Homo sapiens: one gene and its partners. The protein of the gene in region 2 purifies or fractionates together with the protein of the main gene of each other region. This does not show direct contact. Each region holds a gene or a part of one and is shown on either strand. Other genes may lie near its edges. The genes, in order: VSIG8, FBXL4, TTC9C and DUSP14.

Evidence for each region.
Region 1: the proteins of FBXL4 (region 2) and VSIG8 purify together in Homo sapiens (affinity purification with mass spectrometry; 2 studies listed by BioGRID and IntAct, with this or other methods). This does not show direct contact.
Region 3: the proteins of FBXL4 (region 2) and TTC9C purify together in Homo sapiens (affinity purification with mass spectrometry; 3 studies listed by BioGRID and IntAct, with this or other methods). This does not show direct contact.
Region 4: the proteins of FBXL4 (region 2) and DUSP14 purify together in Homo sapiens (affinity purification with mass spectrometry; 2 studies listed by BioGRID and IntAct, with this or other methods). This does not show direct contact.

Annotation. Positions count from the first base shown.
Region 1 is NC_000001.11:159,853,815-159,859,687, reverse strand, and holds the end of VSIG8 (V-set and immunoglobulin domain-containing protein 8 precursor), read left to right. Parts: intron 1-775; coding exon 776-954; intron 955-1,396; coding exon 1,397-1,598; intron 1,599-1,721; coding exon 1,722-1,943; intron 1,944-3,044; coding exon 3,045-3,164; intron 3,165-3,527; exon of another isoform or gene 3,528-3,606; coding exon 3,607-3,805; exon of another isoform or gene 3,806-4,661; coding exon 4,662-4,935; 3' UTR 4,936-5,372; downstream 5,373-5,873.
Region 2 is NC_000006.12:98,868,017-98,874,959, reverse strand, and holds the end of FBXL4 (F-box/LRR-repeat protein 4), read left to right. Parts: intron 1-518; coding exon 519-682; 3' UTR 683-6,425; downstream 6,426-6,943. UniProt on the Homo sapiens protein: Substrate-recognition component of the mitochondria-localized SCF-FBXL4 ubiquitin E3 ligase complex that plays a role in the restriction of mitophagy by controlling the degradation of BNIP3 and NIX mitophagy receptors.
Region 3 is NC_000011.10:62,731,455-62,738,485, forward strand, and holds part of TTC9C (tetratricopeptide repeat protein 9C), read left to right. Parts: intron 1-1,663; exon of another isoform or gene 1,664-1,745; intron 1,746-3,927; coding exon 3,928-4,110; intron 4,111-6,833; coding exon 6,834-6,928; 3' UTR 6,929-7,031.
Region 4 is NC_000017.11:37,492,877-37,499,907, forward strand, and holds part of DUSP14 (dual specificity protein phosphatase 14), read left to right. Parts: intron 1-7,031. UniProt on the Homo sapiens protein: Involved in the inactivation of MAP kinases. Dephosphorylates ERK, JNK and p38 MAP-kinases. Plays a negative role in TCR signaling by dephosphorylating MAP3K7 adapter TAB1 leading to its inactivation.

The DNA of each region.
Region 1 (5,873 bases), on a different chromosome or scaffold from region 2:
CCCAGGCACACACCATCACTCACTATCACACACGAACACAGCCAGGCTCCTGGTCACAGCTGTCCACTGTCATGCACAAGCACACACTGTCACTTTTAAGCACTTACATAGCTCACATGGTCACACATCACTATACAAAACCACACAGAGGCATACAGCCACAGACTCACACTGTCATACACAGACACACATAGACACACTTAGTCTTTGGCTTCTCAGGCTGGAGAGGAGTCCCAGAAGCCATTGTAACCACCCCGCTGCCTCTGGACAGGAGGACTTCACTCAGCCCAGACAGAGCCCACATAGGTGACATTTAATCAGCCAGGCTCTTCTATCAGAGCATTTAACAACTCTGTGTGTACCACATGCCTTCACACACACAAACACATCCACACTATCATATAAATATATAAGCAGACACGCTACGTGGTCATGTACATGAATATCCTCACAGTACACATAAGCAGCCACAAATACTCATAAGCATACAATGTACATACGTGTACATATTCATACATGCATACACATAATCATATATACATACAAGCATACATAACAGCTACATATATAACAGCTATATGTATAGCTGTTATATGCCTGTGACAATTCATGCACACACACATACACACCCACTACGAGCAGCCCTCCTTTTTATGAAAGCACTGCTGACCTCTGGGTGCCGTGGACAGAGAATATGAAGGGAAGGGCTGACACTGACTCCTCCTGAAGCCCTGCTTCTGCTCCTACCACCCCATCTTCTCTGCCCTCCCCCTAGCACTGCTGTCTGCTGTGCGGATCAACGGGGATGGACAGGAGGTCCTGTACCTGGCAGAAGGTGATAATGTGAGGCTGGGCTGCCCCTACGTCCTGGACCCTGAGGACTATGGTCCCAATGGGCTGGACATCGAGTGGATGCAGGTCAACTCAGACCCCGCCCACCACCGAGAGAACGTGGTGAGTGCTGGGCACAGGGGTCTCCTTCCTCTAGGCTTCATGATGTCTACCTGTTGGACAGCCAACATCCCAAAGGGAGAAGACTGACCTTGAACCTCCCCCAAGGCCTTTCAGGGAATGAGGCAATGGGGATGAGAGCTCTGCAATTGTGAATTAAGCTAGCCAGTCAGTCTACCTCCTCCCATCCCATTCTAAAAGGAAGATAAGTTGTAGTCTTTGCCTTCAAAAAGTTCCCAGTCTGACCATATATCTTTCCAAGTGCTTGATCTCACCTGATCTCACCAGTTCTGTAAGAGGTCAGTGGCTCAGGCATCATTATTCTCATTTTTTCAGCTGAGAAAAGAGTCTCAGAGAAGTTCAGTGAATTGCCCAAAGCAGCCAATCCACATGGCCCTTCTTGGCTCTGCCTGTTTCACCACCTGTTTTCCTCTCCTCTTCACAGTTCCTTAGTTACCAGGACAAGAGGATCAACCATGGCAGCCTTCCCCATCTGCAGCAGAGGGTCCGCTTTGCAGCCTCAGACCCAAGCCAGTACGATGCCTCCATCAACCTCATGAACCTGCAGGTATCTGATACAGCCACTTATGAGTGCCGGGTGAAGAAGACCACCATGGCCACCCGGAAGGTCATTGTCACTGTCCAAGGTATGGCCAGACTCCTCTAAGCTCCTCTCCCCCTGGCTTAAGAGCCAAGGGCAGCTTGGCCACTTTGAGCCTGGCTCTGTCTCTTGGCTGGGCCCTGGCTTACAATTGTCTGCCTCCTTGCAGCACGACCTGCAGTGCCCATGTGCTGGACAGAGGGCCACATGACATATGGCAACGATGTGGTGCTGAAGTGCTATGCCAGTGGGGGCTCCCAGCCCCTCTCCTACAAGTGGGCCAAGATCAGTGGGCACCATTACCCCTATCGAGCTGGGTCTTACACCTCCCAGCACAGCTACCACTCAGAGCTGTCCTACCAGGAGTCCTTCCACAGCTCCATAAACCAAGGTGAGAGGGCCCTGGATGAGGGCAGTCGGGGGTGAGTGGAAGATCAGGGACTCTGGGACCTGTTGGGGTTTCCTTGGGTTATCAGTGCCATCAAATCAAACCTGGAATCCCTGTGGGAGACCCTCCCTCTGGGCCTGCCCCAGCAGCTGCTATTTTTTTTTTTTTTTTTGAGACAGAGTTTCGCTCTTGTTGCCCAAGCTGGAGGGCAATGGCATGATCTCGGCTCACTGCAACCTCTGCCTCCCGGGTTCAAGCGATTCTCCTGCCTCTGCCTCCCGAGTAGCTGGGATTACAGGCATGCACCACCGCACCTGGCTAATTTTTTGTATTTTTAGTAGAAACGGGGTTTTACCATGTTAGCCAGGCTGGTCTCAAACTCCTGACCTCAGGCGATCCGCCCGCCTTGGCCTCCCAAAGCGCTAGGATTACAGGCGTGAGCCACCGTGCCTGGCCCAGCAGCTGCTATTGAGAGCAGATGATAAGGCAAATGTGGAGAGTCAGTCAAAAGTACTATGGCGAATTTGGAGGGAGCCTGGTCTCAGACAGAGCTGGGCTTGAATCCTGGCTGGGACACTGACTGGCTCCAAGTTTAAGGCAAGTGGCTTACCCTCCCTGTGCCTTAATTTCTTCATATATGGAAAGGGAATACTAACATATACCTTTCATGGGCATGCAAGGATTAAATGGGGGAGGTGTGTAAAGCTCCTAGTACATAGAGAAGCTGAAAATATTCAGTCAAACAAAGAATAATAGAGCTAGGAGGGACCTTAGAGTTCCTCTTCCCCTGGCTTCTCCTGTCCTCACTGTACAAAGGAGGAGACCAAGGCTCAGAGAGCGTACATATTTCCCTAAGGTCAGAGTGAATTAATGGTGTCCCTGTCTTGCTGCTGGGAGAGAGGTCCTTTCTTGCATCTCTTTCACAGCAGGGGGAAGGTGACTCACCTGGAGAGTGGAGTGTGTGTGTGTGTGTGTGGGTGTGGGTGTACACACATGCATAAGCCTTCCCTTCTTCTAGAGTGGGTGTCCCATCCCCCACCCCACAGGGACTGAGGTTGGGGTGGGAGCTCTCAGAGACCAGGCCTCTCTCCACTTCACTTTCAGGCCTGAACAATGGGGACCTGGTGTTGAAGGATATCTCCAGAGCAGATGATGGGCTGTATCAGTGCACAGTGGCCAACAACGTGGGCTACAGTGTTTGTGTGGTGGAGGTGAAGGTCTCAGGTAGGTGCAGCAGTCTTGAGGGCTGGGTGGTTGGGAGGGTTGAACTGGAGGAGGCTGGGCTCTGGTTTGGAGCCTCAGCTGCTTCTGCCTTTCCACTGCCATCCATTTGCCAGTGGGGGCTCCCAGCCCCTTTCCTACAAGTGGGCCAAGATCAGTGGGTACGATCTTGACCCTATTGAGCTGGGTCAAGCTCGCCCAGCACAGCTTCCACTCTGAGCTCTAGAGCCCAGAGCAGCTGGAAGCCCTGGGAGAAGCATGCTGACACGAGGGGTTAACTTGCATCTCCCCATATCTTCCCCACTGGGTGTTCCAGGGCTAAGAGACCCCCTGGGTCCCTCTCCCTCTTTCCCATTAACCCCTGACCTGGCACCTCCTGGTGCTGTTCCCTCAGGCACCTGCCAGGCTGTGAGAAAGCCTGACCTGCCTCCACTTCTCTCCACAGACTCCCGGCGTATAGGCGTGATCATCGGCATCGTCCTGGGCTCTCTGCTCGCGCTGGGCTGCCTGGCCGTAGGCATCTGGGGGCTCGTCTGCTGCTGCTGCGGGGGCTCCGGGGCTGGCGGCGCCCGCGGTGCCTTCGGCTACGGCAACGGCGGCGGGGTCGGCGGAGGGGCCTGCGGCGACTTGGCTAGTGAGATCAGGTAAAACCTGATGCATGCTGCATGCTGCTGTGCGGCAGGGAACCGGCGCCCTGCCCACCTCACTCCTGCCTGCCACCGGCCGGCTGGGCCCCCCACCCCAACCCTGCCCGCCATCGCCACGGAGTGCTGGGACTGCGGCATGTCGACCTGCCACCCAACTCATGGCTTTCCCCTCCCCCTGCCACCCCAGTCTTCACCTCTGCTCCCTGCCTTCCATTTCCCTCCTGCCTACGCACCTGTCTGTCTTGTCTAGACTGTAAGCTCCTGGAGGGCAGGGCCTATGTTTTTTCACGTTTCCCCTGTACTGCGCCGGTAAGAACTCTGACATTATTATTTAAGAAGAGCTAATAATAAGAATAGTGCTAATAACTTATATTAGAAGCAAACTAGAAATAAAAATAGAACAAGTCTAGTAGTGCTAATGATTGCAATGCCTCGGGGATGGAGGGAAAGATGGAGAAGACTGAGGGGCAGGAGGTGAGAAAGAGAGAGATTGCTCGAGCAAGGTCAGGATTAGCTAAGGAAAGAAGAAGAGGAAAAGCACCTTCTTCTGGGCCTGCGAAACATCAGAAAGGGATTGCAGGGGCCTGGAGGGGGCTGCCTGCAGGGCTCTCCAGATACGCGTGGACAAGCCCTGTCTGGAGGATGGGGATGCTGGCTCCGGGACCGCTGCAGGGTCGCCGACCCAGGAAGGGTCACAAAGGACAGTAGGTCGAGGCCGAGGGAGAGAGACGAGGGCAGGTGGAGGGAGGCGCGGGAGACAAGAGGTTGCCAAGAGCCCCCGGCTCTGCCCAGGCCGTGCCCACGCCCCGCTGCGGAGCAGCCCGCTCACCCGCCCGCCTGTTGTTTTCCACAGAGAGGACGCCGTGGCGCCCGGGTGCAAGGCCAGCGGGCGCGGCAGCCGCGTCACCCACCTCCTGGGGTACCCGACGCAGAACGTCAGCCGCTCCCTGCGCCGCAAGTACGCGCCTCCCCCCTGCGGCGGCCCCGAGGACGTGGCCCTGGCGCCCTGCACCGCCGCCGCCGCCTGCGAAGCGGGCCCCTCCCCGGTCTACGTCAAGGTCAAGAGCGCGGAGCCGGCTGACTGCGCCGAGGGGCCGGTGCAGTGCAAGAACGGCCTCTTGGTGTGAGCGCGCGCGCCGGGCCGGGCTGCGCCCCAGCCAGGAGGAGGGCGCGGGGCTCTCTGTCTGCAGCTGGGGACACGTCGGGGCTGGGGACGACCTCGCTCGCCCCAGGCTGCCAGGCGGCTGGGGGTGAAGGCATTTCCCTAAGGAAATGCGTAGGGAGGCAGAGCCTCCTCCCCAAAAGTGGGAAGGGGCGGGCGAGGGCGGAGGAAGGCGATCCTGAGCCTTCTCCGCACCCCCGGGACCGAAGGCTTGGGGGAGAGGGAGGGAGGAGGAGGCTGAGTGTCCTAGAGCGGCTGAGGCCGGAGGCCTGGTGTCCCCAGCCTAAGCAGAGGGCCCCGGGGGCCGGGTGGGTGGGGGTCTGTCTGGACGAATTGTTCTGTGTGTGAGGTCTGAGCTCTGAGGCAGCAGTGTTAGCACAATAAAGAAACATTGAGACGTGAGTCCGAAGTGGCTGTCCGCGTTCCACGGAGGTTGGGCACGGGGTGGCGAACCCTGCCCAGGGCCGGGGAGGGTTGCTTCTGTCGCTCGCCTCGACCACGCCCCCTCTCCTCCCTCCTGCTTAGATCCCTGGCAGTCAGAGCTGGAAGGGGCCATCCAGGGCAACTCCTCTGAACAACATACAAAGTGCAGATAAAAGGAAAACAAAGACAAAAAGAATTAGCTCAGAATATCTACGACCGTAAAATAAACTGAGGAACCGACAAAGTGCAATACACTTGCCATTTCTAAATATTCAAAGTTTTCACATGTCAAGATTTTCTATTGAGAATAATGTGCTCTGAAGGTCTAGGGAGTCTTTGTATGTTGCTGAAAGCTAAAAGGAAACCAGTCCTTGGAGCACAGAAGGCACAGGCATCCGGTGAGACAGAAACAAGGACATGTGAAAATAAGACTACAACCTCTTATATTAAAAAACTAAGTGCCACAGTTCTAGGGTGCTG
Region 2 (6,943 bases):
TATTGAAAATCTTTTCCAGCTCTGGGATTTCTTGAATCCTTGCTGCATTCATCAGAAAGGAACCCTGTGTAATTTTGTTGCTTCTTACTTTTAGCCAGGGGTGCTAGCAGTGTCACAGTAGTTATCATTGTCCACACAATTGATACTTTGTGAAGTCATATCGCACTTGCACATTTTACATCAAATGCATGGTGAAAACCATTTTGAACTGGGGTGACAGAAATAGGAAAGTCTGGAGGAGCTGATTTGAAGGGGTAGGAGGTAGGAATGAAGATAGTGGGTAGGATATTGGCAAGATTCAGGTCCTAGATGCTAAATTGGCTGGAAAATTCAACTTTTACTTTTTTAACAGAACCATTTCAATATGAAGTCATGTTTGAAAAAATGATTTTAATTTGTAAAGGGTTATTTTAAGTTCATTACAAACAATAAATCATGGATGGATTCATTGTTAGCACATTATATAAATGTTATACTTAAGGTGTTTTGTTTTGTTTTGTTTTGTTTCCCTTAAATAGGAACAAGAATGGTAAGTCCGGCATCCTTAAGAAAACTCCTGGAATCTTGTAAAGATCTTTCTTTACTTGATGTGTCCTTCTGTTCGCAGATTGATAACAGAGCTGTGCTAGAACTGAATGCAAGCTTTCCAAAAGTGTTCATAAAAAAGAGCTTTACTCAGTGACTTAATATATGTTCTGTATTAAAATTAATGTGCTTTGTTGGGGTTTAATTTTGGGATTGGTTTTGGGTTTTGTTTTTAGTTGTTTTAATGGTAAGAATTAAGACATTTGTAGATTTTAAAGAAAAATATGAAATTGTCCATTAAATCAAGTAAAAATGTGCACAAATGTTTTCATAAAATACTGCAAGCACTTCTCTTCAAGAATATGAGTGGATATTATTTTTACCTTATGTTAATCAGTGATATGCTTTAGTCAATAATATGATTGATAAAAGAATAACATGGAATCATGCTAACTTATTTTCAAAGGAACACTGAGCAATAAAGTATCGTGGCATTTATGCAAAAAAAAAAGTTAATTTTTTACACCTTCATGTAAGGATGTCTTATTAAGCCTGTGACCTGGCAAGTGTTTTGTTTGGTATGTACAAAATGGTCAGAGCTAGTTGGAGAATGAGACATGCTTTTCCAGCTGTTTGGTTATTTCTCTGGATTAACTGTTCAACTGGAAAATTTTTAGTTTTTCTAGCCAGGTGTGGTGGCACACACTTGTAGTCCTAGCGACACAGGAGGTGGAGGCAGGAGGATTACTTGAGATGGGATTTTGAGACTCTAGTGTACTTATGATTGCACCTGTGAGCAGCCACTGCACTCCAACCTGGGCAATATAGCAAGTCCCTTTCTCTTAAAAAAAATTGTAGTGTTTCCACTTTTCTTCTGATATTTTTGTCTATTTCACTACTGGATAATGCCAATATAAAAATTTGGGTATAATCAAGAATAAGAGGTAAACTACTAAATAAAAAAAGCTTTCCAACTGTTAGAAGCAGATGCCTTAACATTTTGTGAAAGGTAAAGTTTTGAGGTTTCTGAATTATATAAAAAAACATAAATGTGGAGATATATATTATATATACACATTATATATACATATTATAGATAATATATATCCACATTTATGATTTTTAATATATACATGTATATATTATATATTATATAATTATATATTACATTTATATTATATGTAATGTACATGTATATATTATATACATATATATAATTATATATATTATATAGAGAGAGATATATATCTTGCTAGGGTGTGTGGATGCTGGAATATAACGATTTTGCACTTAACAGGACAATGAATTTTGTTATACTACAGTTAATATTAGTTTTGTGTTCAAAACAGCTGTGCCTTTTCATGCCACAAAATATTTTCTGTCTACTTTCTGAGTAGCAGAATTAATTCATTTTTTTAACAAAACGATGTATGTCAAGTGTTCAGTAGTCACATGAGGAGAATGCTTCCTTTGTGCCTGGCACTGTTTCTTGTGCTTTGCATTGACTAATTCAATTCTCACAACAACCCTGTAAGATAAATGCCATTACTTACCCCCATTTACAGATGAGGAAACTGAGGCAAAGAAAGATTGAAGAATTTATTTATGATCATACAGCTGCTAGTGGCAGAGCCAACATATAAACCCAGGCCATCTGGCTTCTGAAGCATTGCATTAAACCTGTGCTTTTAGGTGTTCAGGGTAGCTTCTGGCTCTAGGGCAGAGGTCAGGAAACTTTTTCTATAAAGGGCCAGATAGTAAATATTTTAGGCTTTGTGGGCTAAGAGGTAAAACTGAGATTGTTATGTAGATACTTAAATAACTAGAGAGAAATAAAATTTGCACGAAAATTTTATTGACAAAATTCAAAACAATAATTTAGAACAATTTTTTTTGTAATACGGGTTTACTAATGAAAAGAATTAAATATTTACAGGGAGGATCAAAGTTAATGTTTCGTGTCATTAAAGTTGATTGTAAGTACTCATTTGTTAATGCTGATCTGTAATAAGATTTTATGTATTTTACTTCTGAAAATTCCTTGCAGATAGGTATTGTCAAATACTTACATTAATCCATGAGAATATGATTTTTGTTGAGCATATTCATCACTTGAAAGGTTACTTCTTCTCTGGATATTTTCCTTTTAGCATGTTATTACATTGCAGCTTAATCACTTCCAATTGAAGACTAGGCAGAAGCTCCTCAATTGCACTGTTAAATTGATTTTGAAAAATGGAAATTTCCTTTACATTTGCAAACTCCAAAAAATACTGCAGGCACTATGGTGTGAGCTACAAATTTGTGTGAGAGTGGAGATCTCGCTTCTTTGTCTTACCTTTTGATAGCACAGGAAATGTGTAAAGCAGCTTGTTGTTACTTGTAATTCAAACAATGTTGTCATCAAAATGACTTATGTTTTGCTTGTAAACACGTTTTGCCTTGTAATTTTGGCTTGAATTCATTTCAAAATTTTATTAAGTCTTGAGCAAAAGCTAAATTCCAAAGCCATTCAGTGTTCCATAATAGTGATTGAGGACATGTCTTCTTTTTCAGAAAAATGTCAATATCAGCCCTGAACGCAAAAGCTCACAATAGAACTAACACTATTATGCCAATGTGGTTGGGCAAATCAGCATATTCATCTTCTGTATCTGACAAAAGATAACTGAACCATTGATGTTTAATCTATCAGAAACTATGAGAGCAAATGAAGTTCACCATTGCTACCAGTAGTTCAGTAATACAAAATTGAATCAAATATATCCCACAAAGTACCTGCTGATGAATAATACAGTAAATAACCATAGATTTTAAATACCTTCTTACCTTTTCACAGGCTTTATAAATTTGACAAACGTAATCATTTTGCTTCACACATTTTTAACACCACCAGTTGTAACACATCTTAGCAGATTCTACTTCAGGTTGCATGAAATTTGTGTTTTCTTCTTATAAAATATTCATGCTTGTAATTGTGCCACACAGATAATTCATAGAGACTAATTTCAGTCACTTCAACGTTGGCATTGACTTATCAAATAAGCAATAACTAGGCAGTGTCAGTAACATCTGTTGACTCATCAAGAGCCAAGGAAAACCACTCAGGGTCATTTGCCTTGTTTTTTATTGACTGTTGATGTTGTTCCCAGTGTTCTCAATTCTTTAAGCAACCATTCTTGCCAAAAGGCTAATTTAATAGTCTTAAGTTTACTTTGGACACAGTCCTTCAGCCGATAGAATCAAACACAATTTAGTTATCGTTAGTAAAATGTTTTCCTTGCTTGGTTAACATCTGAGTCACTTTGGCTGCAACTTTATTTTCATTTTTGAGTTTGTTTTTTTTTTTTTTTGAGACTGAGTCTCATTCTTTTGCCCAGGCTGGAGTGCAGTGGCACAATCTCAGTTCACTGCAACCTCCACCCTGCAGGTTCAAGCGAGTCTCCTGCCTCAGCCTCCCAAGTAGCTGAGATTACAGGCACATGCCACCACACCTAACTAATTTTTATGTTTTTAGTAGAAATGGGGTTTTACCATGTTGTCCAGGCTGGTCTTGAACTCCTGACCTCAAGTGATCCACCCACTTCAGCCTCCCAAAATGCTTGGATTACAGGCATGAACCACTGCATCTGACCTCCCTATAGTATTCTTTAAGAACAGCTATAATGACATTGCATATTAAACATCATACTCTGACATCTAATCTGATTTTTAAAAATTCATATACTAATGTGCCTTAAAAATGTCACTTCAAGTCTACTTTTCTTTTTTTCTCTTGTTTTGATGTTATGGGTAAGCACTAGTAATAAAAAATTTAAAAATATTGTGGTATGACAACATATGTGGCACTCAAAATGCTGGTAACTGCATTACTGCAGTTTTTAGTGTGCCAAGTAGCAGTGCAAAATGATGACAGCACCACATAAGTCTCCTTTGCATTTGTTCAACTCTGCCATTCTAATGTGAAAGCAATCATAGACAGTACCTAAACGAATGAGTGTGGCCATGTTCCAATAAAATTTCATGAGCACTGAAAGTTGAATTTTACATAATTTTGATGTGTTACAAAATACTACTGTGTTAGCCATTAGATTTTTTCAGCCATTAGAAAATGTGAAACTGTTCTTATGAGCTGGCTGGATTTGGCTTGTGGACCAAATTTGTGACCCCTATTCCAGAGTATTTTCGAGTCAGTTAATCCATGTTTGCCCATTCCTAATTTTATAAACCACATTCAAACCTGTTAATTCGCTGTTATCATTCTCATTTTGCCATTTAGATTTTAAAATGAAGAGCAGTGTTTTGTTAGAAAAAACAAAATGTTTACCATAACAAGAAAGATGTGTAGACAAGAAAGATATTTATGTAGACTCTTTGTTTGTTAAATTTTGAAGCCAGGTGATGCATTGTTAGCTTTGACAACTGACTTAAATTTTTGTATAATTATTTATCTTTGCATTTTGCTCAGGTAAATTATCTTCCCAGAGTCTAGAAATAAAGATATCCCTGATCCTGTTTAAGAGCATAAATAATACTCTCAATGTAAATTGTTTTGAAATAAGATCTTAAAAATACAAAATGTAGACAATTAATATTCAGGTGCTTACTTTTGAGCCAATATGTAGCAGAGAAAAACTAATTTCTCTGTGGCAGTATTTTTATTTTTGGCATTTCCCAGGAATTAACTGAAGACTAAAACTCATATGTGAAGTGTAATGATACTAATCAAAGAGTCAGTAAAATTTCCATTTGGCTACCATGTATGTGTGTATATATTTATGTATGTATGTGTGTGTTACATATTTGAGACAGGGTCTCACTCTATTGCCCCAGGCTGGAGTGCAGTGGCATGATCTCAGCTTACTGCAGCCTCAGTCTCCCAGGCTCAAGCGATCCTCCCACCTCGGCCTCCCGAGTACCTGGGACTACAGACACCACCACACCTGGCTAATTTTTTTATTTTTTATAGAGACACAGTCTTTCCATGTTGCCTATGTTGGTCTTGAACTCCTGGGCTCAAATAATTTTCCCACCTTGGCCTCCTGTAGTGCTGGGATTACGGGCATAAGCCACTGTGTCAGGCCCCATGTATGTTAATAGTGAATGTTTGGCTTTTCATTTGTTACTTTCAGCTATTAAAGGATACCTATTACAGACACAGGAATTTACATTTTCAAAGTCATTTTTGACACATCAGTGCTGCATCTACTTTTCTCCTTTTAGCACATTTGATATTGATACTTCAGAGAAACTTTTTTAACTACCCTTAAAATCTTGTCAATGACCATTAACTGCCAATCATCACCTCATTTGCTTTTTTTGACAACATACTACTAGAAACCTAGGCTGTGAGTGTAAAACCATAACTGTTAGAATCATTTTTTTGGCAATAGCTCACATTCTGTTAAGAGTCATTTGCTTTAATCAAAGATCATGATTTATTATATATTTTTTATAAGTAGGGATGGGGCCAAGATTATTCCTTTGGCACAGCAGTAAGTGTGCTCAAGATCTTTGCCTGTAAGCTTGAATATTTGGCTTAAATTTTGTGCATATGAATACTGTTAAAGGTATATTTGACTACATTTTGAAAGGAAAAAGGTAGTCCTGCTAAAATTGACATTTAGGGATATTTTAATCTATGTATTTGGTAAAGTAATTAGTGAAGTATTAGTTATAAAAATTTTAAGGAAAACATTTAAAAGCAAAATAGTCGTATCAGATAAATAGAGTAGAATACACTAAAGATAAAACAAGTCTCTGTTACAAATGAAGTTGTCTGTACAGACGACTGAGATATTTTAATTTTATTTACATAAAAATGCTGTTCAATATCTAATGATTTCTGTTGTTTGTATTCTGTACTTTAGAGTAATAAAATAAGTTTGAGTATCTCATTAGTTCACTTTCAAAATTGATCATTTCAGGGCACTGCTGAATATAATGGAAGGTTTGGGTAAATAGGTTTGCGTCACAGCCCCTGTGAAATTACCAGCCTAGATGAGGAGCCATCCGCCTGTGTACAGAACTCTTTTTTTTTTTTTTTTCATTTCTCTCTCTATATATTTTTTATTATTATTATACTTTTAAGTTTTAGGGTACATGTGCACAATGTGCAGGTTAGTTACATATGTATACATGTGCCATGCTGGTGCGCTGCACCCGCTAACTCGTCATCTAGCATTAGGTATATCTCCTAATGCTATCCCTCCCCCCTCCCCCCACCCCACAACAGTCCCCAGAGTGTGATGTTCCCCTTCCTGTGTCCATGTGTTCTCATTGTTCAATTCCCACCTATAAGTGAGAATATGCGGTGTTTGGTTTTTTGTCCTTGCGATAGTTTACTGAGAATGATGATTTCCAATTTCATCCATGTCCCTACAAAGGACATGAACTCATCATTTTTTATGGCTGCATA
Region 3 (7,031 bases), on a different chromosome or scaffold from region 2:
GGCATGGTTGTGCTTGCCGGTAGTCCCAGCTATTCTGGAAACTGAGGTGGGCCAATGTCTTGAGCATGGGAGGCCGGGGCTGCAGTGAGCCAAGATTGGGCCACTGCCCTCCAGCCTGGGTGACAGAGCAAGTAAGACTCTGTCCCCCGATTCCTCCCACCAAAAAGCCTTCCAGAAGCAAACAGCACTCTGACTTCATTCATTCTCTGTCCCGACATAGTTTTATTTTTCTTAAAGCACTTTTTTTTTTTTTGAGACAGAGTCTTGCTCTGTCGCCCAGGCTGGAGTGCAGTGGCGTGATCTCACCGCAAGCTCTGCCTCCCAGGTTCATGCCGTTCTGCCCCAACCTCCCGAATAGCTGGGACTACAGGCGCCCACCACCACGCCCAGCTAATTTTTTTTTTGTATTTTTAGTAGAGACGGGGTCTCACCTTGTTAGCCAGGATGGTCTCCATCTCCTGACCTAGTGATCCTCCCGCCTTGGCCTCCCAAAGTGCTGGGATTACAGGTGTGAGCCACCGCGCCTGGTCAGCACTTTTTTTTTTTTTTTTTTTTTTTTTGAGACCAAGTCTCACTCTGTCGCCCAGGCTGGCGTCAGTGGCGCAATTCTGGCTCACTGCAAGCTCTGCCTCCTGGGTTCACACCATTCCCCTGCCTCAGTCTCCCGAGTAGCTGGGACTACAGGCGCCCGCCACCACGCCTGGCTAATTTTTTGTATTTTTAGTAGAGACGGGGTTTTACCGTGTTAGCCAGGATGGTCTCGATCTCCTGACCTCATGATCTGCCTGCCTCAGCCTCCCAAAGTGCTGGCATTACAGGCGTGAGCCACTGCGTCCAGCCTCTTAAAGCACTTTTAAAAATTAATTTACTTGGGCCGGGCATGGTGGCTCATGTCTGTAATCCCAGCACTTTGGGAGGCCGAGGTGGGCGGATCACCTGAGGTCAGGAGTTCAAGACCAGCCTGACCAACATGGAGAAACCCATCTGCACTAAAAATACAAAAAAATTAGCCAGGCGTGGTGGTGCATGCCTGTAATCGCATCTACTAGGGAGGCTGAGGCAGGAGAATTGCTTGAACCTGGGAGGCGGAGGTTGTGGTGAACCAAGATCGCGCCATTGCACACTCCAGCCTGGGCAACAAGAGCAAAACTCCGTCTCAAAAAAAAAAAAAATTAATTTACTTGGGCCAGGTGCGGTGGCTCACGCCTGTAATCCCAGCCCTTTGGGAGCCCATGACAGGCAGATCACGAGGTCAGGAGATGGAGACCATCCTGGCTGATATGGTGAAACTCCATCTCTATTAAAAATATTTTAAAAATTAGCTGGGTGTGGTGGCAGGTGCCTGTAGTCCCAGCTACTTGGGAAGCTGAGGCAAGAGAATCGCTTGAACCTGGGATGTGGAGGTTGCAGTCAGCCAAGATCGTACCAGTGCACTCCAGCCTGGGCAACAGAGGGAGACTCTGTCTAAAAACAAACAAACAAAAAATTCATTTACTTGTTTCTTCTGTATTCCTCCACTTTTTTTTTTTTTTTTTGACCACTTGGTGGGGATGTTGTAGAAGGGATACAGACATCAGCACAGGCCCTTTAATGTGCTCATCACTGCTGATTCTTGATCTTTCTCAGCACCATGATTTAATAATACTATGTTTAATTCCCACAGTTGTGAAATAGGGAGTGTTTCCCTTCTTAATCATAAAAAGGCAGAACATTGACCTGAATTGCCTGAATTGACTCCTCTGCAGGTTTGTATTTCAAGGTCCCATTAAGTCATCCAAGAGAATAGTGAAGTTATATGCTGTATTGTTACTGAGAATGATGATTTTGGAGTTAGACAACACTTCATTCAAATTTCATATTCCACCTAGAACCTGTAAGATCTTAGACAAGTTATTTGTCTGAGTCTTGATTTCTTCATCCACTAAATGAAGATAGTAACACCTATTTAATAGTGTAGATGCGAAGATTAAACAAGACAGTGTATATCAAGCACATAGCACAGCGCTTGCCATTTCCTGACAATTAATGGCAACCATTATTAACAAAGCTGCAGTACAAGAACTGTGGTGAAATGGGGGATTCAGGACATAGAGCCTCAGGTAGAAGAGATACAATGAAGGTTAGTTTGTTTTTTAAAAAATTGTAATTTATCTAATTTTTTTTTTTTAAGATGGAGTCTTGCTCCATAACCCAGGCTGGAGTGCAGTGGTACAATCTCGGCTCACTGCATATCTAATTTTATATAAAAAATTAATGGGGCCGGGCACAGTGACTCACGCCTGTAATCCCAGCACTTTGGGAGGCAGAGGCAGGTGGATCACAAGGTCAGGAGTTCGAGACCAGCTTGACCAACATGGTGAAACCCCGTCTGTACTAAAAATACAAAAATTAGCCAGGCATGGTGGTGAGCGCCTATAATCCCAGTTACTCAGGAGGCTGAGGCAGAAGAATCACTTGAACCTGGGAGGCAGAGGTTGCGATGAGCCAAGATCACGCTACTGCACTCCAGCCTGCACGACAGAGCGAGACCTCCATCTCAAAAAATAATAATAATAATGAGGGGGCTGGGCAGGGTGGTTCACGTCTATAATCCCAGTACATTGGGAGGCTGAGGCCAGCGAATCACCTGAGGTCAGGAGTTCAAGACAAGCCTGGCCAACATGGCGAAAACCCATCTCTACAAAAATACAAAAATTAGCCGGGCATGGTGATGTGTGCCTGTAATCCCAGCTACTCGGGAAGCTGAGGCAGGAGAATCACTTGAACCCAGGAGGCGGAGGTTGCCGTGAGCTGAGATCGCGCCATTGCACTCCAGCCTGGGCGACAGAGCGAGACTCCATCTCAAAAAAAAAAATAGGGTCTCACCTGGGCATAGTGGCTCATGCCTATAATCCCAGTACTTTGGGAGGCCAAGGTGGACAGATCACTTGAGGTCAGGAGTTTGAGAACAGCCTGGCCAACATGGTGAAACCCCATCTCTACTGAAAACACAAAAATTAGCTGGACATGGGTAATCCCAGCTACTCGGGAGGCTGAGGCAGAAGAATTGGTTGAACCTGGAGGTTGCAGTGAGCCAAGATCATGCCACTGCACTCCAGCCTAGCTGATGAGTGAGACTCTGTCTTAAAAAAATAATAAAAAAAGAATACATTTGTTATTCGGAATACACTTCTTATAACACTGCAGTGAATACTCTGCCAAAAAAAAGGGACAGGGGAGGGTCTCACTATGTTGCCCAGGCTGGTCTTGAACTCCTGGGCTCAAGCAAATCTCCTACCTCAGCCTCCCAAAGTGCTAGGATTACAGCATGAGCCACCATGCTCAGCCGAGTTTTAAATAAATTTTAAAGTATGTTCTTACCAGCTTTATAGCCAAGCCTAACTGGCTACTAAATATGTAGCAGAAAATCAGTAAATATTGAAGTAGATTACAAGATATATGAATTTTTTGTTTTGTTTTGAGACAAAGTTTCACTCTTGTTCCCCAGGCTAGAGTGCAATGGCACGATCTCGGCTCACCGAAACCTCCGTCTCCCAGGTCCAAGCGATTCTCTTGCCTCACCCTCCCGAGTAGCTGGGATTACAGGCATGCGCCACCACACCTGGCTAATTTTTATTTTCAGTAGAGACGGGGTTTCTCCATGTTGTCAGGCTGATCTCGAACTCCCGACCTCAGGTGATCCACCCGTCTCGGCCTCCCAAAGTGCTGGGATTACAGGCATGAGCCACTGCACCTGGCCGATATGTGAAGCTTTTATTCACTGCTGCATCCCCAGTGTGTAGAAGAGTGTCTGGCATATGGGAGACACTTTAGCATTTGTTGACTGAATGTTGTTACCACCCTGTTCAGTACTGTCTTGAGCTGGCCAGTGGAACCTGGTGTAACGAGCCCCTCCTACCTCTTCTCTCTTTTCATTTGGCCCATTAGCTTGTCTCCTTCAGATGGAGCCCGTGAACTACGAACGAGTGAGAGAATATAGTCAGAAAGTCCTGGAACGACAGCCTGATAATGCCAAGGCCTTGTATCGGGCCGGAGTGGCCTTTTTCCATCTGCAGGACTATGACCAGGCCCGCCACTACCTCCTGGCTGCCGTGAATAGGCAGCCTAAAGGTAAGCAAGAAGGGCTTTGAAATGGTAAAGACAAAATTGTCTTGCTGGGGTGGATCTGTGGAAAGGGGGTTTTATTTTACTTTGCCAATGTATTATTTTCAATAAGTAATACATTCACATGGTTGAGAATTCGAACTGAAAAAGTATACGATGAACAGACCTTTTTCCACTCTTGTGTTCTTGTCTCCACAGAAAAGCAGTATTATTAGTTTCATGTGTAGGGGGTTGATGCTTAATCAGACATACACAATATATATGTTGGTATGTCTGTTTCATATATGTATGTATGCCTATTCTAATATATAAATATATGTATATCAACGTGCTTTTATTTATAAATATACAGTGTATATATTTATACATATACATGAATATATATATAAAATAGGCAGGCCAGGTGGGGTGGCTCACATCTGTTATCTCAGCACTTTGGGAGACCAAAGTGGGTGGATCACCTGAGGTCAGGAGTTTGAGACCAGCCTGACCAACATGGAGAAACCCCATCTCTACTAAAAATACAAAATTAGCCAGGCATGGTGGCGCATGCCTGTAAACCCAGCTACTCGGGAGGCTGAGGCAGGAGAATTGCTTGAACCCAGGAGGCGGAGGTTGCGGTGAGCCGAGATCCTGGGCAACAAGAACGAGATTCTGTCTCAAAAAAAAAAAAAAAAAAAAAAAACAGTGTTGTTTTTTGGGGCTGGGTACGGTGGCTTACACTTGTAATCCCAGCACTTTGGGAGGCCAAGGCGGGCAGATCACCTGAGGTCAGGATTTCAAGACCAGCCTGGCCAACATGGCGGAACCCATCTCTACTAAAAAAAATAAAAATACAAAAATCAGCCGGGTGTGGCCGGGCGCAGTGGCTCACACCTGTAATCCCAGCACTTTGGGAGGCCGAGGTGGGCGGATTACGAGGTCAGGAGATCGAGACCATCCTGGCTAACATGGGGAAACTCCGTCTCTATTAAAAATACAAAAAATTAGCCGGACGTGGTGGTGAGGGCCTGTAGTCCCAGGTACTCAGGAGGCTGAGGTAGGAGAATGGCATGAACTTGGGAGGCGGAGCTTGCAGTGAGCTGAGATCCTGCCGGTGCATTCCAGCCTAGGGGACAGAGGGCGGCTCCGTCTCGGAAAAAAAAAAAAAAGCTGGGCGTGATGGCAGGCCCCTGTAATCCCAGCTACTTAGGAGGCTGATGCAGGGAGAATCGCTTGAACCCAGGAGGCAGAGGTTTCGGTGAGCTGAGATTGTGTCGCACTCTAGCCTGGGCGACAGAGCCAGACTCCATCCCAAAAAAAAAAAAAGCGAGTGTCGTTTTTCAAGTTCTGTTCCTGGTCTTTAAGAGTGATTGGAGGCTGGGCATGGTGGCTTATGCCTGTAATCCCAGCACTTTGGGAGGCCAAGGTGGGCGGATCATGTGAGGCCAGGAGTTCGAGACCATCCTGGCTAACATGATTAAACCCCGTTTCTAGTAAAAATACAAGAAATTAGCCGGGCGTGGTGGCGGGCGCCTGTAATCCCAGCTACTCGGGAGGCTGAGGCAGGAGAATAGTGTGAACCCGAGAGGCAGAGCTTGCAGTGAGCCAAGATCGCGCCACTGCACTCCAGCCTGGGAGACAGAGGGAGACTCCATCTCAAAAACAAAACAAAACAAAACAAAAAAACAGTGATTGGAATAGGATGTGTGAATGCCAACAAATACACTTGATAATTTTCATTCTGCCAGTTCTCCAAATGGGGTCTGGCCTTTGGTTTAGCTATCATTTTTATCCTTTAGCTCAGCTAACCCCAGGTATGACCTAGAAAAAGGGCAGTCCTGCTGAGAGAGAATTTGGGACTTACTTTGTTTCCAAGGCAAAAAGGATATTGTGAAGCAGATGAGAGACTCATTCCTGTGTTGGTTGGTTGAGCACTGAAAATTGTCTCCCTTTTGCATTCTGGCTTACAATAGCCACTGGATACTAGTAGCAGAGTCACCAAATGTATAGCAGTGCAGTAAAATCTCATCTAAATGAATGAGAAAGCCATTATGAATTAATAAAGATATAAAATATAAGCCATTTGTTCATGTTTCTCAGCATCCAATACATAAATTAACTGCCACCTATATGAATAGTATCTTTAGAGGCTCTATTTTAATGATAACTGCTTCATCAATCTTGCTTTCATTATGAAATTAGCAACCAGTGTCCAGGCATGGTGGCTCACACCTGTAATCCCAGCACTTTGGGAGGCCAAGGCGGGTGGATCACGAGGTCAGGAGTTCCAGACCAGCTTGGCCAACATGGTGAAACCCCATCTCTACTAAAAATACAAAAATTAACCAAGCATGGTGGTGCATGCCTGTAATCTCAGCTACTTGGGAGGCTGAGGCATGAGAATTGCTTGAACCCGGGAGGCGGAGGTTGCAGTAAGTGGAGATCCCATGCTATTGCACTCTAGCCTGGGTGACAGAGCGAGACCCTGTCTCAAAAGTAAGTAAATAAATAAAATAAATAAATAAATAAATAAATAAAAATTAGCAGCCGGGACAGAGATTGTTTTTTTTCAATTCCAAATGTTATTAATTAATGAGATTTACTATTGCATAGAATGGTTGCGATATATTCAGATCTTGGAGAGATTTTAAAATGGGAGCATGTTAACATTCTCTCCTGCCACAAGGTATGATTATGGTCTTAACTGACTCTAACTGTTTCTAATTGCTTCTCCATCATCTTCCAAGATGCCAACGTCCGGCGGTACCTCCAGCTGACACAGTCAGAACTCAGCAGCTACCATAGAAAAGAGAAGCAGCTCTACCTGGGCATGTTTGGTTAACAAAGAAGAAAGATGCTCCTCCAGTTGAACTTAGGTGGACCATTAAACATGCATGAAGGAGAAATCTGAGCCTCAGCAAGAGAAATTAACCCTATACCTCTGA
Region 4 (7,031 bases), on a different chromosome or scaffold from region 2:
AGTTTTTATCCCCTAAATATAAATCCCTAATTGACATAGTTTTATTTTGCTTGTTTTTAACCTCAGTGCAAACTAAAAGTAGATACTCTTGTGAATCCTTCCTTCTGGCCGGCATCGTGTGTGTGTGTGTGTATGTGTATGTATGTGTGTGTGTATGTATGTATATACACACGCACATATATAATTTTTTAAATTTCTGCAGCATGCTATTTTAAAAGATTTATCCATATCGTTGCCTATGCCTGTAGTTTTTGTGTTTTAATTTTTTTAGAGACAAGGTCTCACTATATTGCCCAGGCTGGTCTTGAACTCCTGGGCTCAAGGGATCCTCCTGCCTGGGCCTCCCAAAGTGCTGGGATTACAGGTGTGAGCCACCACACCCAGCCCAGTTAGTACATTTTTGTCTTATGAACATACCACAAATTACCTTTCCACTGTTGATGGACATCTGGGTTGTTTCTGGTCTGGGGCAATTATGAACAGCCCTGAGTCAGGTGTGCATACCTTCAGCTTTACTAGTTGATACCTGGTTTCCAAAGTGGTTGTACCAATTTACATTCCTTCAGTGGTGTCAGCCTTGAGTTTGTAAGTCACTGTATTTGCTGTTTAACCACAATTATGCTTGAATATTTTCTGAATGAATGAATAAAGGTCCCTGGGTAGTCCGATCCCTGGCCTGTCATGTGCTAGCGTATTTTTATTTAGTTATATGGTTTGGACTAACCACCCAAATACCAGAAATGGTTTTCCCACTGTGTTTGGTTGACAAATATCTAATGGAATCCTTTCATCAATCTTTTTTTTTTTTTTTTGGAACAGATGAGTAGTTACAGGAAATTTTAAATATGCAAAATGAAGTACTAAAAATAAGTGGCTAGTACCTAGATGTTTTTTAAGGCTCTTGAATGAATCCTGCCTCTGGTGAATGCTTCCATTGTGCCCAGCCCTAAATGTGTAGGACAGTGTAGTGTGCAGGAACCCAGGCCTATCCTTGTTAAAGTACCCTCTGAGGATGAGACTCCTTAAGAGGCACTGTGCACAGACCCTAACTCATACTTCTTGGCAATTCCAAAGTAACCACAGACTCTGTGCTACAGGAATCAATGACTCTTTTAAACTTTTTTTTTTTTTTTTTGAGACAGAGTCTCACTCTGTCGCCCAGGCTGGAGTGCAGTGGCGCGATCTCGGCTCACTGCAAGCTCCGCCTCCCAGGTTCATGCCATTCTCCTGCCTCAGCCTCCCTAGTAGCTGGGACCACAGGTGCCCGTCACCATGCCCGGCTAATTTTTTGTATTTTTAGTAGAGACGGGGTTTCACCATGTTAGTCAGAATGGTCTTAATCTCCTGACCTCGTGATCCGCCCGCCTCGGCCTCCCAAAATGCTGGGATTACAGGCGTGAGCCACCGCACCCAGCCTTTAAATCTTTTAAATGTATTTTTCTCCAAATTTTCCTTTGCCTGAGAAAGTAGAAGTAGCTTAGAGCAGAGTTTTTGTCGTTTTTGTTCATTTTCTTTGTAAGAGATGGAGTCTAGCAGTGTGGCTCAGGCTGGCCTTGAACTGCTGGGCTCAAGGGATCCTCCCACCTCAGCCTCCTAAAAGCTGGGACTGCAGCATGTGCCACATCCAGCTTGAATTCCTGCTTTGTGAACAGACAGTTACCAGGCTCACTTTGATTGCCCGTGTTTAGTTTTGCCAGCTGGATTTGAAGTGTGTGTGTGAGAGAGAGTGAGAGAATGTGAGAAAGAGAAGGAGCAGGAGGGAGGGTGTGGGGAGAGGTGGGCAGTTCACCTGAGGGCAGCCGTTAAATTCAGGTGTTCATTGAGTACTTACCATGTGCCTAGTATTATGTGCTGTGTTTCTGCCCTTAGAGCAGAATGTTACGCAATTCTGTAGGTTTACAAAATACCTCAGGGGAATCCTTTTTAGCTGGAGGGATGATGGAAGAACACTAGCACAAAGACTGAGATTTGTAGATCCTTTTTATTTCTTCTCTAAAGCATCTTGGAAAATAGCTAAATCACTCTATTTTCAGTCTTTATTTACATAAGTCACAAAGACTTTTTTGCTCATTATAGTAAAGATTTTTTTTCAGATTCTCTAAAATAATGATAATTTTAGAAACCACATGCGGATAAATTAGAAGTTTTCAGGAAAAGACACCCAAAGGAGGAGGAGTAAGAAGTCGTTAGTATGAGAACCTGTTGATCTGAGTGATGGGGGAGGAGCCCTGTCGTGTTCTTTGTCACCCCTTCGGCCTTCCAGCGGGCAGCTTTCACAAAGGAGCTCCATTTTCCACCTGTTGCAGGGCAGGGGCAGCCTCAGCCTGGGCGAGGGAGGAGGCCTAGGGCTGAGATCACAGCCATGCCCTTTCATGTGCAGCCCACCCAGCTCACCTGGGCACGTCCCATTCTGTTCTTGCACCAACCTAGAGCAACCAGAGGTCCGGTTGGGTCAGCTTTTCACACCCCATGCCATGTTGAAACCTCAGTGGACGAGAAGGTTCTTTTGAAGTTCATATGCAACTGCTGGGTTTACTTCTGTCTTTGTCCCAGAACAGTTTCAGCATCAATGACCTAGGGCAAGTTTTTTTGTTTGTTTGTTTGTTTGTTTTGACTCCTATGTCTTTGAGTGTGTGGGTACATATGAGAAAACTCCCTAACTAGAGCATGCTGCTTCTGTTGACTAGTAAACATTATGTGGCAGAGAGCGCCTTCAAAGCACCAGCCTTCCCTGCCTGGGAAAGTGACCAGTAGGTGAACTTGCTTTAAGTTTTGTTTTTTTTGTTTTTTTGTTTTTTTTTTGAGACGGAGTCTTGCTCCATCACCAGGCTGGAGTGCAGTGGCGCGATCTCGGCTCACTGCAACCTCCGCTTCCCAGGTTCAAGCAATTCTCCTGCCTCAGCCTCCCGAGTAGCTGGGATTACAGGCGCATGCCACCACGCCCAGCTAATTTTTCTATTTTTAGTAGAGACAGGGTTTCACCATGTTGGTCAGGCTGGTCTCGATCTCATGACCTCGTGATCCACCTGCCTCGGACCCCCAAAGTGCTGGGATTACAGGCATGAGCCACCGCGCCCAGCCTGCTTTAAGTTTTAAGGAAGCACTTGTAAAAATAAAATCTGGAAGTACTGTCAACATACAAATTACATACAAATTTGGAGATTTATAATGAAGAATTTTGCCAATTTAGCTAAAATCTAAATCTTAGATTTAACTAAATCTTTTAAATCTTTGTGTTTCATTATAAAACACAAAACATTTATAATGAAGACACACTTCATGTCATCATTATAAATCTTTGGTGTTATCCTGGCTCCTATATAAAGAGCACTGGCAGGCTCAGGCCAGAAGTGGAGAGGGGGCTTGGACCGACAACTATGTGTTGTTAATTTTCTTCTATTAAAAATATTTTTTACTTTTAGAAATTGAAATCATATAGAAAATTATGCTGGGCACAGTGGCTCACGCCTATAATCCCAGCACTTTGGGAGGCTGAGGCAGGTGGATCACTTGAGGTCAAAAGTTCAATCGAGACTAGCCTGACCAACATGGTGAAACCCCATCTCTTATAAAAATGTAAAAATTAGCCGGGTGTTAGGCCGGGCACGGTAGCTCATGCCTGTAATCCCAGCACTTTGGGAGGCTGAGGCGGGTGGATCATGAGGTCCGGAGTTCGAAACCAGCCTGACCAACATAGTGAAACCCCGTCTCTACTGAAAATACAAAAATTAGCCGGGAGTGGTCGTGGGCCCCTGTAATCCCAGCTACTCCAGAGGCTGAGACAGAGAATTGCTTGAACCTGGGAGGCGGAGGTTCAAGTGAGCCAAGATCATACCACTGCAATCCAGCTTGAGTGAAAGAGCGAGATTCCATCTCAAACAAACAAAAAATTAGCCGGGTGTGGTGGCATGCACCTGTAATCTCAGCTACTTGGGAGACTGAGGCAGGAGAATTGCTTGAACCCAGGACGAGGCAGTTGCAGTGAGCAGAGATTGAGCCACTGCACTCCAGCCTGGGCAACAGAGTAAGACTCTGTCTCAAAAAAAAAAAAAAAAAAAGAAAAGAAAATTATTGAAAGCAAATTAACCAGCATCATAACTCACCATTCAAAAATCATTGCTCATACTTTATCTTTTATAATGCTTAGAAATTAAGTATTATCAAGTCAGAGCTTCCTTGGGCCATTTCTCTTCCCTTCCCACTGAGACAACCACTCCCATGAATTTGGTACATTTCCTTCCAACTCTATTTAAATATCAATTTTACTTCAAACTGCATTTTTTTTTTTTAAAGACAGAGTCTCTTCCCCAGGCTGGAGTTCAGTGGCACAATCTCAGCTCACTGCAACCTCCGCCCTCCAGGTTCAAGTGATTCTCTTACCTCAGCCTCCTGAGTAGCTGGGATTACGGGCACATGCCACCATGCCCAGCTAATTTTTGTATTTTTAATAGAGATGGGGTTTCACTGTGTTGGCCAGGCTGGTCAAACCCCTGACCTCAAGTGATCCACCTGCCTTGGCCTCCCAGAGTGCTGGGATTACAGGCATGCGCTACCGCGCCCTGCCTTCAAACTGCTTTTTTGATGAATGTCAAAAGGACATAGAGGCCTGGTGTGGTGGCTCATGCCTGTAATCCCAGCACTTTGGGAGGCCTAGGGAGGTGGATGGCTTGAGCCCAGGAGTTCGAGTCCAGCCTGGGCAACATGGCAAAACCCTGTCTCTACAAAAAACACAAATTAACCGGATGTGGTGGCTCATGGCTATCGTTACAGCTACTTGGGAAGCTGAGGTGGAAGGACTGCTTGAGCTCAGGAGGTCGAGGCTGCAGTAAGCCATGATTGTGCCACTGTGCTCCAGGATTCTTGCTCAAAAAAAAAAAAAAAGACAAGACAAGACTAAGCATGGTGGCCCATGCCTACAATCCCAGCACTTTGGGAAGCTGAGGCCAGCCAGAGTATCACTTGAGCCCGGGAATTCAAGGCCAGCCTGGGCAACGTGGCAAAACCCTGTCTCTACAAAAAATTAGCCAGGCATGGTGGCGCACCCCTGTAGCCCCAGCTACTCAGGAGGCAGAGGTGGGAGGATCGCTTGAGTCCCAGAGGTTGAGGCTGCAGTGAGCCTAGATTGCACCACTGCACTCCAGCCTGGGTGACAGAGCAAGACCCTGTCTCAAAAAAAAAAAAAAGGACAGAAATCTTTACTAGCCTTTATTTTGTACTGTCACATATGTTCTATGTTTAGGGGATGGAACTCTTAGAGCATTTCACATTTCACATGATATTTCTTTTTTTTCCTTTTTGTCACATGATGTTTCTTGTTAACAAAAATTGGAGAAGTATTTAGTGTTTTACAGAGCTTCAATTACTTGGTGTAAACTTTCAGCCAAAGGTGATCCAAAATGGAAATGGAGTAGAACTTGTTTTGTGTACTAGATTGTATCTTTTTTTTTTTTTTTTTTTTTTTTTTTTTTGAGACAGAGTCTCGCTCTGTCGCCCAGGCTGGAGTGCAGTGGCGCAGTCTCTGCTCACTGCAAGCTCCGCCTCCCCGGTTCACGCCATTCTCCTGCCTCAGCCTCCCCAGTAGCTGGGACTACAGGTGCCCGCCACCACACCTGGCTAATTTTTTGTATTTTTAGTAGAGACGGGGTTTCACCGTGTTAGCCAGGATGGTCTCGATCTCCTGACCTCGTGATCCACCTGCCTCGGCCTCCCAAAGTGCTGGGATTACAGGCGTGAGCCACCGCACCCGGCCTAGATTGTATCTTAAATCCAAATGACTACTGTATTATATGAAAGTAATCAGTTTTTTTTTTTTTTACAAAAATTACACTTACGGAGTTTCTTATTCCATTTATCCTCCTAGAAAGTACAGGAGATATTTTTTCCACAATATCAGATTACTCTTAATAATATTTTTAGATTCCTTCTAAAAAGGTACTTACTAGAAATGTGAATTCCCAGGCCTTCACTTCCAGAAATTCTGATTAATTAGGTCTGGGGTGGGGTCTAGGAGTCTGCATTCTAACAGGCAGCCCAGGTGATTCTCGTGTAGGACTCCTTGGGAGCACACTTTGAAGAATGCGTCTACTATGCTGTGATGGTTTTATAACTTACTAATTTCAACCAAGGATTGGTGTAGTAGCCCATTCTCACGCTGCTATGAAGAACTGCCTGAGACTGGGTAATTTATAAAGGAAAGAGGTTTAATTGACTCGCTGTTCCACATTGCTGGGGAGGCCTCAGGAAACTTACAGTCAGTGCAGGCAGGGGAAATGCCAGACGCTTATAAAACCATCAGGTCTCATGCAACTCACTCAAAATCACCAGAACAGCATGGGGGAAACCGCCCCCACCTGGTCCTGCCCTTGACACGTGGGGATTATGGGAATTACAATTCAAGGTGAGATTTGAGTGGGGACACAGAGCCTAACCATATCAGTTGGCAAACTTTCTTTTTTTTATTTTTTAAATTTTTTTATTTTAAGAGATGGGGTCTCACTGTTTGGCTCAGTCTGGAGTACAGTGGCATGATCCTGGCTCACTGCAGCCTCGAACTCCTGGGCTCAAGCAATCCTCCTGCCTTGGCCTCCCAAAGTACTGGGATTACAGGTGTGAGCCACCACACCCGACCCTCTAGAAGTGTTTTTGTTTGTTTGTTTGTTTTTTGTTTTTTGAGACAGAGTTTCGCTCTTTCACGCAGGCTGGAGTGAACTGGCGCGATCTCGGCTCACTGCAACCTCCATCCCCCCGGGTTCAAGCGATTCTCCTGCCTCAGCCTCCCGAGTAGCTGGGATTATAGGTGCCCACCACCACACCTGGCTAATTTTTATATTTTTAGTAGAGACGGGGTTTCACCATGTTGGCCGGGCTGGTCTCAAACTCCTGACCTCAGGTGATCCACTCACCTCGGCCTCCCAAAGTGCTAGGATTACAGGCGTGAGCCACCATGCCCAGCCTAGAAATGTTTTACTAATTAGTAATGTAGTCTTCTAAAGGGAACTATTACATTGTCATATTGTGTTTCCAGACAGTAT